Linked DNA regions of Homo sapiens: regions 2 and 3 are each reported to be linked to region 1. Evidence: microRNA targets listed by miRTarBase, many of them from high-throughput screens and not tested one by one. Region 1 holds a microRNA gene; each other region holds the end of a gene's coding sequence.

The links. The annotated mature microRNA hsa-miR-7107-5p reads UCGGCCUGGGGAGGAGGAAGGG and lies in region 1 at 1,953-1,974, shown strand. An mRNA with a match to its seed (bases 2 to 7 or 8) in the 3' UTR can be bound and repressed. Matches are read on the target gene's strand: a 7mer-m8 pairs with bases 2 to 8, a 7mer-A1 pairs with bases 2 to 7 and ends in A, and an 8mer does both.
Region 2: the mRNA of GON7 is a reported target of hsa-miR-7107-5p. The part of its 3' UTR that is shown has no 7-base or 8-base seed match.
Region 3: the mRNA of PPP1R12C is a reported target of hsa-miR-7107-5p. Seed matches in the 3' UTR shown: 7mer-A1 at 2,797-2,803.

Annotation. Positions count from the first base shown.
Region 1 is chr12:121,443,300-121,446,299 of GRCh38, reverse strand. MIR7107 (microRNA 7107) reads left to right here and starts at 1,948; the gene lies at 1,948-2,027. It overlaps KDM2B (lysine demethylase 2B), which reads left to right. Exons shown (of 23, transcript NM_032590.5): 14 at 882-1,025; 15 at 1,764-1,850; 16 at 2,028-2,288; 17 at 2,507-2,620.
Region 2 is chr14:93,200,755-93,204,049 of GRCh38, forward strand. GON7 (GON7 subunit of KEOPS complex) reads right to left here. Exons shown (of 2, transcript NM_032490.5): 2 at 2,140-3,028. The coding sequence ends at 2,934. Among named protein-coding and RNA genes, the nearest start is that of GON7, 4.7 kb to the right of the region's middle.
Region 3 is chr19:55,088,474-55,091,817 of GRCh38, forward strand. PPP1R12C (protein phosphatase 1 regulatory subunit 12C) reads right to left here. Exons shown (of 22, transcript NM_017607.4): 21 at 3,177-3,227; 22 at 2,445-3,085. The coding sequence ends at 2,999. Among named protein-coding and RNA genes, the nearest start is that of EPS8L1, 14 kb to the left of the region's middle. RefSeq lists an enhancer at 128-422.

The DNA of each region.
Region 1 (3,000 bases):
CAGTCTCCCGAGTAGCTGGGACTACAGGCGCCCGCCACCACGCCCGGCTAATTTCTTTTTGTATTTTTAGTAGAGACGGGGTTTCACCGTGGTAGCCGGGATGGTCTCGATCTCCTGACCTTGTGATCCGCCCGCCTTGGCCTCCCAAAGTGCTGGGATTACAGGCGTGAGCCACCGCGCCCGGCCTGGTGATCTTTTTAATAAGCGTATGGCATGAGTCACCCCATGGCTGCTGGTGAGCTGGGGGCCTTGCCTTGCCTGGTGCTGAGGGGCCAGGAGTTTCACCCGCCAGTACAAATATCAATACTGTGCAAAAGGCAAATAACGTCTGTTATTCTGAAGACAGTTCTGACCTCCTAACCTTTCTGTAAAGGTCTTGGGAGCCCGCAGTCCATGGTCTGTGCCTTGAATACCCACTGGTGAGATGCAGCTTCATCTCATCCGCATGGATCTGGGCTGCGCTCACGCCCCTGCTCCTTTGGGGCTTTTCTGAATGTGAGGCCTTCCCTGACCTCCATATTTAAAATCAGCCCCCCTTCTGCCCCTCACTCCAGCCCTCTAATTTTTCCCCATGTCTCTGTCTCTAACATGCTCTGTCCATTTTGTCTGCCTCCCTCCACTAAAATGTAAGCTCTGGATGGCAGAGATTTTGAGCTGTCTTGTTCCTTGCTGTATCCCCAGCAATTAAGAGTAGTATCTGGCATGTGGAGGTAGTAGCCTGATACGTATTTCAATGAATGAGTGAGCGAATGTGCCTGGGCCACTTTCCGGGGGTCTCCTGGCAGGCCCAAGGGGAGCAGCTCATTGCCCTTGAACTGGCCCCCCTGGGGGTCCGTGCTCCCCACCCCTGATGACTTGTCTTGTTCTCCCTGGCTCCTCAGCCAGTGCTGCCCCACACCGCCGTGTGCCTTGTGTGTGGCGAGGCGGGGAAGGAAGACACGGTGGAAGAGGAGGAAGGCAAGTTTAACCTCATGCTCATGGAGTGCTCCATCTGCAATGAAATCATCCACCCTGGATGCCTTAAGGTGAGTGGCCCAGTGGGGACAGGTGGTGCTGACGCTCTGGGGCAGGTAGGGTTGCTGGAGATGCTGGTGAGATGGTGGGATGCAGGTCGTGCAGTGAATTCCTGGAGGACCCCTGAGTCTGGGTGATCCTGTGTGTCAAGGGATAAGCCCGGGGCAAGGAGGGCCTGGAGTACCTCAGAGACCCAGTGTCATCAAAGGAATAAACACACCCCCACCTCCCAGGATGTCAGAACCAGAGAGGGTTTCCAGAGCCTCAGCAGATGGCAAACACAGGCTGCTTGTTTGTAGCTGGGCCAGAGGAAGCGCCTCCAGGTGGCTCCAGGCTTCTGGGAGAACAAGGCCCCACACCACACTCCTTCCCCCAGCACCCAGTAGAGTCCTCTGCAGAGTCCTTTCTGCATGCCAGGCGCTGAGCTCATGGCTTTACCTGGGTCATACCCCCCCAGTGAGATGGGCACACTAACTTTTATGGCCGAGGGCACCAGCCCACAGAGACGGAGTGTCTTGCCCAGGGTCCCAGAGAAGCAAAGGGGCTCAGCCTCTGAACCCTGGCCTGGATCCACAGCTGCCCGTCTCTGCCAGCCTCTGCAGCTGTGTTTTCTTTTGCCTGGAAACGGGATAGATGTGACGTTGGGGAGGGGGTGCTGCTGCTTCTGGAAGACGTGGCGTCACAGAGCCTTGTGCCCGTGGGCCATCTTCTCCGCCCGTCCCTCTTCTGAGTCCTGGTGTTCCCCGCAGATTAAGGAGTCAGAGGGTGTGGTCAACGACGAGCTTCCAAACTGCTGGGAGTGTCCGAAGTGTAACCACGCCGGCAAGACCGGGAAAGTGAGTGCCGGGCTCCAAGTCCCAGGGTCAGTCGGGAGAGGGGCGGGCCTGGGCCTGGCCGGGACCAGCCTGTCCCAGGAGTTTCAGGCAGGTGGGTTGCCGTCGGCCTGGGGAGGAGGAAGGGCAAGTCCAAAGGTATACAGTTGGTCTGTTCATTCTCTCTTTTTGGCCTACAAGCAAAAGCGTGGCCCTGGCTTTAAGTACGCCTCCAACCTGCCCGGCTCCCTGCTCAAGGAGCAGAAGATGAACCGGGACAACAAGGAAGGGCAGGAACCTGCCAAGCGGAGGAGTGAGTGTGAGGAGGCGCCCCGGCGCAGGTCGGATGAGCACTCGAAGAAGGTGCCGCCGGACGGCCTTCTGCGCAGAAAGTCTGACGACGTGCACCTGAGGAAGAAGCGGAAATACGAGAAGCCCCAGGAGCTGAGTGGACGCAAGCGGGTACGGACCAGGAGGGGCTGGGAGGCAAAGGGGTTGGTCTGGCTGGTCCCGGGTGCTGGGTTGGAGGGATGGGGCAGGGGGTGGGCAGCAGGTAGAGCTTGGGATAATCCCGGCCTCTTGCTGCCCTGAGCAGGTCACCTAAGTCCTGAGAGCCCTGCCCCAAAGAAAGGAGGGGAAAACCAGCGAGTCACTCCTCTTCCCACTCCACCCCCCTTTAGGCCTCATCGCTTCAAACGTCCCCCGGTTCCTCCTCTCACCTCTCGCCGAGGCCCCCTCTAGGCAGCAGCCTCAGCCCCTGGTGGAGATCCAGTCTCACTTACTTCCAGCAGCAGGTGCTCCCACGACGCACGCCCTCCTGAGGCCCCGGGGACTGGCGAGTCCTGGGCTGTCCCCCACCCCACCCCGCTGGTCCTCCACCCCACTGCTGCCTCTCCTGAGGCTTCCCAGGTCTCGGCCCCAGATCTCTGGCTCGTGGTTCTGGCTTGGGGCCTGGGAAGCTGTCTGTGCCTAGAGCCTCTGTTGGTTGGGATGGAAGCTGTGAGTCCAGGGAACCTCTGAGGAGCCTGGTGGCCCTGCTCCACCCACGGGCCGTGCTGTCACCAGCCACAAGGTGGCGCCAGGAGTCTCTCCCAGCTCTAGCCATTCCTGCTGGGCCGGGGATTCCCACAGGGCTGTGCTCCAGAACTGGCTCCCAGAGCCGAGGATGATTTGA
Region 2 (3,295 bases), not on the chromosome of region 1:
ACTGTACTCCAGCCTGAGTGACAGTGAGACCCAAGAGCAGCAGCAGATTAGGCAACTTGGCAAAGCATTTCTTCTATACTGGTCCATCTTTGTCAAACACATGGCTTACTTATGAAGAAGACAGTATTAGAATTGAAATCAGTATTAAAATTAATTAAAAGACCAATCTTATAAATCAGAACCTAAAAACACTGGGACACAAACACAAATATTATCTTGAAATTTCTTCTTTATAACCACATTTTCCAAAGGAGGAAACATAAAATGTTCAGAGAAAAGGTTCAAATATCAGTTTAACAATGTGCTCTCTTTTCAGTATATACAGGTAAGTTTTTTTCTTTTCTTTTTTGAGATGGAGTTTCGCTCTTGTTGCCCAGTCTGGTGTGCAATGGCACCACTGGCTCACTGCAACTTCTGCCTCCCAGTTTCAAGCTATTCTCCTGCCTCAGCCTCCCAAGTAGCTGGGAATACAGGCATGTGCCACCACACCAGGCAAATTTTGTATTTTTAGTAGAGACTGGGTTGCTCCATGTTGGTTGGGCTGGTCTCGAACCCTCGACCTCAGGTGATCCGCCCACCTCGGCCTCCCAAAGTGCTGGGAATACAGCCATCAGCCACCGTGCCCAACCAGTTTTTTCTTTAATGATTGTATAGAGATAACAGTACTATAATAAATAAGTTAAATGTTAGAAACATCAACATAAACTAAACAAAGATAATTTCTGACCATCCATAACTTTTTCTAGTTGGCACTGTTTTGATTGCCCAAGAGTACTTAGTGGAAGGCTGCTTGCTGTTCCAACTAAAACAATATTTCAAGGATATGAAAAAGTGTGTAAATTGAGTTTCACTTAAATTATTTCACAATAAAAGTGATTCATAAAAGTTGATTAGTCCGGGCATGGTGGTTCACGCCTGTAATCCCAGCACTTTGGGAGGCAGAGGTGGGCAGATCCCTTGAGTCCAGGAGTTCTAGACCAGCCTGGGCAACGTGGTGAAACCATCTCTACAAATACAAAAAAATTAGCCAGGTGTGCTGGTGCATGCCTGTGGTCCCAGCTATTTGAGAGGGTGAGGTGGGAAGATCACCTAAGCCTGGGACTCGGAGGTTGCAGTGACAGTGAGCCGCGATCGTGCCACTGCACTCCAGCCTGGGTGACAGAGTGAAACCCTGTCTAAAAATAAAAATTTAAAAAAGAAAGAAAGAAAAAAAGGCTACGCACGGTGGCTCACGCCTGTAATCCCAGCACTTTGGGAGGCTGAGGCGGGCGGGTCACGAGGTCAGGAGTTCGAGACCAGCCTTACCAACATGGTGAAACCCCATCTCTACTAAAAATATAAAAATTAGTCGGGCGTGGTGGTGTGCACCTACAATCCCAGCTACTCAGGAGGCTGAAGCAGGACAATTGCTTGAACCTGGGAGGTGGAGGTTGCAGTGTGCCCAGATCGCACCATTGCACTCCAGCCTGGGCAACAGAGCAAGACTCCATCTGAAAAAAAAGTTGACCCTGGGAAAAAAAAAAAAATTGACCTGGCGTGGTGGCTCATGCCTGTAATCCCAGCACTTTGGGAAGCCAAGGTGGGTGAATCACCTGAGGTCAGGAGTTCGAGACCAGCCTGACCAACATGGTGAAACCCCATCTCCACTAAAAATACAAAATTAGCTGGGCGTGGTGGCACATGCCTGTAATTTCAGCTACTTGGGAGGCTGAGGCAGAAGAATTGCTTGAATCCGGGAGGGAGAGGTTGCAGTGAGCCAAGATTGTGCCACTGCACTCCGGCCTGGGCAACAAGAGTGAAACTCTGTCTCAAAAAAAAAAAAAAAAAGAAAAAAAAAGTTGATCTTCTCTCACCTTTTATCAGCTTAAAAAAAATCTAAAGGCTATTTATGTAACCCAGTTTGTCAATGGTTAGCTCTGTAATCTGAGGGCAAATACTTATCCTTAGATTTATCTCTGAAATAAATCACATAATTTGTAAAGTGACTTCCAACTCTAAAATTCCATGACTATTTGTATTTTACTAGGTACATGCTACTTGATTTCTTTGCATTGAAGCTATCTAAATCAGGAAGGATGCACAGCAAATAAAAATGCCTTAGTCCCACTGACGAGCAGAAAAGAAACACACACACATACATATTTTAGGAATATATATTTTTAAAAGGATTCAATAATCTTTTTAAAGCAAAATCAAAGTATGGCTACAGGAGGAGAGGAAATATCCAAATTGTAATCAATGCAGATTGTTTACTTAAGGCCTTATATTTGTACCTGTATAAATACCATATCACAGCACAAAAACATACCCCATCTGGCTCTCTTAAGGTACATGATAAATCAGACTAATGCACATTCATCAAAGTGGCATCATCTCAGGATATGTGCATATTTGACGTGGGTATGAATTCAGGGTTTCCTTGGGTCTCTTTCAAGGACTCTCCTTTCTCGTCGGTATTTCTATTTCCTTATTTTCCTTCTGTTTATGAAGAACTGTTATTTTTATATTTAATGCCCAATTTTCACTACTTGTTCATGTCAGTTCTCTGAAATGTTACTGCCTATGAACCGTGACATGTACTCTTTATAACAGAACCAGAAGTTAAAAGATGTAGACATCACACAAATCAATGATTATTTTAAAAATAGAAAACAATGATAAAAATTCAGTTGCCAACTTAGAGGATTTTATACATTATGAAGTGTTCTATTTTCCTTCCAGGGTCTGAAATTTATTTCTCAAGAAAACAGATTTTATTTCTAAGCCTTTACTATCTTTGCTAGAAACAGAAAAACCAGTTTTCTCTTTGACAAAATTGTCCCAGGAGAACAACACAAATGCTTTTTCCAAATTAGAGCATAAGTCTTCCTTAAATGTCCTAGTGTGACAATAAGGATACAACAGCCATCTTTTAAATGTCATGAAGGCTATTGTTAAGACGGTGTTTTTGGCCGTTTTGCAGATGGTCCATCGAAGTTAGTTCTGTTATCAATGTTATTTTCATCTTCTGCATCATCTTCATCATCACCTTTTAAAATAAATATTTGTTGTATGACAATACGTTCTATGGCTGAAAGAAATATATATAGCTAAAGTGGTTGATAATGAGACCATTTCACTTTAGGGATTAATAAAACCTGCACATTTTAGATTAAAATGATTTTGAGAATTTCAGTGTTTAAAATCTTTATTTTCTATCACTTTCCTCTTTGGAAATATTAGTTCATTCACCATAAAATCCACTCTTTTTTTCTTTTTTTTTGAGATAGTCTTGCTCTGTCGCCAGGCTGGAGTG
Region 3 (3,344 bases), not on the chromosome of region 1:
TCTGGCCACTCTTTGTTCTGGGAGATGGCAGCCAACTGAAAACTTCCTAATCCCTCAAGAACTAGCTCCTTCTCCCTCTGGCAAGCCCTGTAACTTTCTTTTCCCCATTATCCAGGTGGCTGGTAAGGTCTGCTTTTCTCTGGATCCCACTGTTTTCCAGACTGGATATTCTCTGCCTTTGGGAAGAATGGCCCTTTCTCTTTCTCCCCTGGCTCTGCCTTCCCCAGATTACTGAGGGCCTCTGGGCCTCTGGGCCTCAAGCCTCTCCCGGAGTTGTTCCAACCTGGGCCACCAGATGGCGCCCTCCAAGATGGGAAAGGATCAGAGAGACGCCCCCCCACCCCCACCCCGCCCCCCGCCCTTGGGGCAGGCAGGAGTTCTCAGTCCCCACTTTGCCACCTCCTGCCTGGTTCCTTCTGGTTCCTTCCTTCCTCTTTGGATCTCCAAGAGTCCTTCTCCTATCTGCCCCGTCCCTAGATCCTATTCACATACTTCCCTTGGCTCCCTATGGCTCACCGGATAAAACCAGGCCCCAGCTTGGCAGTCACAGGTTGCCCACTCGGCTCACCAGCTTCTCCGACCACGGGGCTCAGCTTCCCTCCTCCTGCTGCCAAGCTTGGTTCATGTGGTTGCTTCTGCCCAGAATACTCTCAGCCCCTCTACCACTTGCCCGGGGCCCCACCCCTCATTCTTAGTAGGGGAATAGGAAAGGTAGGCAATTCCCCCAAACCTCTTTGCTCCATTCCCGCACCCGCCCCCCGCCCCCCAATAAGCCCCCGTGGCTCTCGCCACCTAGGCTGCAAACTGAAATGCCTGCAGGAACCCGACAAGAGACCCAAGTGAGCCAGCCGGGCCTCAGCCCTACCCCCGTCACAGGCCAGCTTGTTTGAACATCCTGGCAGCTGTATCTTCCAATATTCTCAGAACCTGACCATCTCTCACCATCTTCACTCCCATCACCCCAGCCAGAGCCACCCTCTCTCTTGCTTGGATTTCACCAGTAGACCCTTAGCTGGTCCCCCCAATCCTCACCACCAACCCCCAGCCTGTTCTCCATGCCAGAGGGACCTGTTAAAACCTAAGTCAGGCCATGGCCATGCTCCAAAAGACACCCAGAGCTCCAATCTCACAGCTCAAGCCCTTCCCAGGGCCAAGTCTCCACACAGCCACCGTGACCTCTCTAGCTTCATTCCCTGCTTTCTCCAGCTCCTCAGCTTCCTGCAGCACACCAGGTGCCCTACCCCAGGGCCTCCACACACACAGCTCCCATCATCCCTCAAATACCTACACAGCTCCCTCCCCAGGGTCTCCACACACAGAGCTCCCATCATCCAGAGCACCCTTCCCTCAAATACCTACACAGCTCCCTCTCCACCACCTTCAACCATCTGCCTGCACCAGCTTTTCCCTGAGGCCTGCCTAGACCACTCTATTCAAAACACATGTGCACACACGTGCACCCACCTTCCCAACCCCTTTCTTTTCTCCAGAGCGCCGCCACCTTGAAATACATTTATTTTAACATCGGATGCCCCCCTCCTAAAAGTATTGGATCTTTGTTTTGTTCAGTAATGATCAGTCACACTGTACTCACTCAGTCCTGTTCTTCCTGTTGGTGTTATACTAATTGTTGAATGAATGCCTCATCTCAGAAGATGGCTCCTACTCAGCTCTAGTCAACGGTGGCTATGCAGGACTGAAAAGTTCATATTGTCACAGATTCCTGTTCTTTCAAAAGAAGGCAAAATTCTTTTTGTTTTTTGTTTGTTTGTTTGTTTTTGAGATGGAGTCTCGCTCTGCTGCCCAGGCTGGAGTGCAGTGACTCGATCTTGGCTCACTGCAACCTCTGCCTCCCAGGTTCAAGCGATTCTCCTGCCTCAGCCTCCCAAGTAGAGTAGATGCGATTACAGGCACCTACCACCACGCCTGCTAATTTTTGCATTTTTAGTAAAGAAGGGGTTTCACCATGTTGGCCAGGCTGGTCTCGAACTCCTGACCTCAAATGATCTGCCCGCCTCGGCCTCCCAAAGTGCTGGGATTACAGGCGTGAGCCACCACACCCGGCCAAAATTCCAGATTTTTACACACAAATTTCTCCAAATGTTAAATGTTGGCAATTGACTAAATTTGTTTCAAAGACACTGATGGCAAAACCCAAACTCCCCAGCTCCACATCCTTGGCCCCAGAGGTCTTGCCCGCTGATCCCTCCTGCCCCATCAGCTTCCCCTCAGCCCCCCGCCTGCGATCACGCGGGCTCCGTCTTGGAGCCTTCGCTCCCGCTGGGGGCTCATCCTGAAGCTCCTTCACCACACAGGTGAGTAAGCACCAGCCCATCCCCCGGCACCCACCCAAGTGGCCCAGTGGTTTGGTCATGGACACGCACGGCCCCCCAGCAGGAGCAGGAAACAGTGCCCTCCCTCTGGCTGGGAACACAGAGCTTGAGTGGCAACTTCACGACTTTTATTTGTGGTGCCTGTGCTTTATCTCGAAAATACCTTCTCCCCCTGCCCCAGACAGTGGGCGGGGAGGGGGCAGCAAAAAATAGAAGACGTCCCTCCCTATTGCACATGGACCCTATATACAGGCCCACCTGGCTGAGGCTGGCGGGACTCTTGGCACATTCTTGGATCCCTGCTCAGGAGGGGAGGGGTGACGGGGTGGCATCACACGTGAGATGGGGACCTCCAGGCGGCCACTCTGGTCCTGGCTACTGATCCTTGCACTTCTTGGTCCTCAGTTCCTTCCTGGTCCCGTCTCTGGCCCTGGTCCCCTCTGGCAACGTCCCCCTGCTTGGCTCGGCCTCCCACCTCCATCCTGGCCTCGGGTGGCCCCCTCGGCTCCTGGGGACTCTGCTCCCCTCCCAGTCCGGAGGTCCCAGGGGGGCTATGGCTTCTCTGAGACTTCCCCCGGAGCCCTGTCACTCGTGTTCACACGGGGGAAGGGGTGCGTGTGGCAGAAGCAGCTGTATAAATACGGGTGCGGGAAAGTCCCTCCGGGTCACTTGGAGAGTTTGCTGATGACGCGGATCAACGCTGCATTCTCATCCTTGAGGCGCTGGTTGTCAGCGCGGAGGTCAGACAGGGCCTGGGGGACGGCAAGGGTCAGCTGGGCAGCCCTGGCGGGTTGCACCCCCACCCACCCTCGGCCCTCTGCCCACAGCCCCCACAGCCCCCACCTTCAGCTCCTCCTCCAGCTCTGCGGCCTTGCGTTCCAGGGCCCTGCGCTCCTGGAATGAACAGGGAAAGTGCAGAAACTGAGTGAGGCTGAGGAGGGCAGGGGAAGGCCAGGGGCCAGCTGGGAAGGGCAATGTGGCTCCCTTGGTCCAAACTTAGGGATGTGAGGC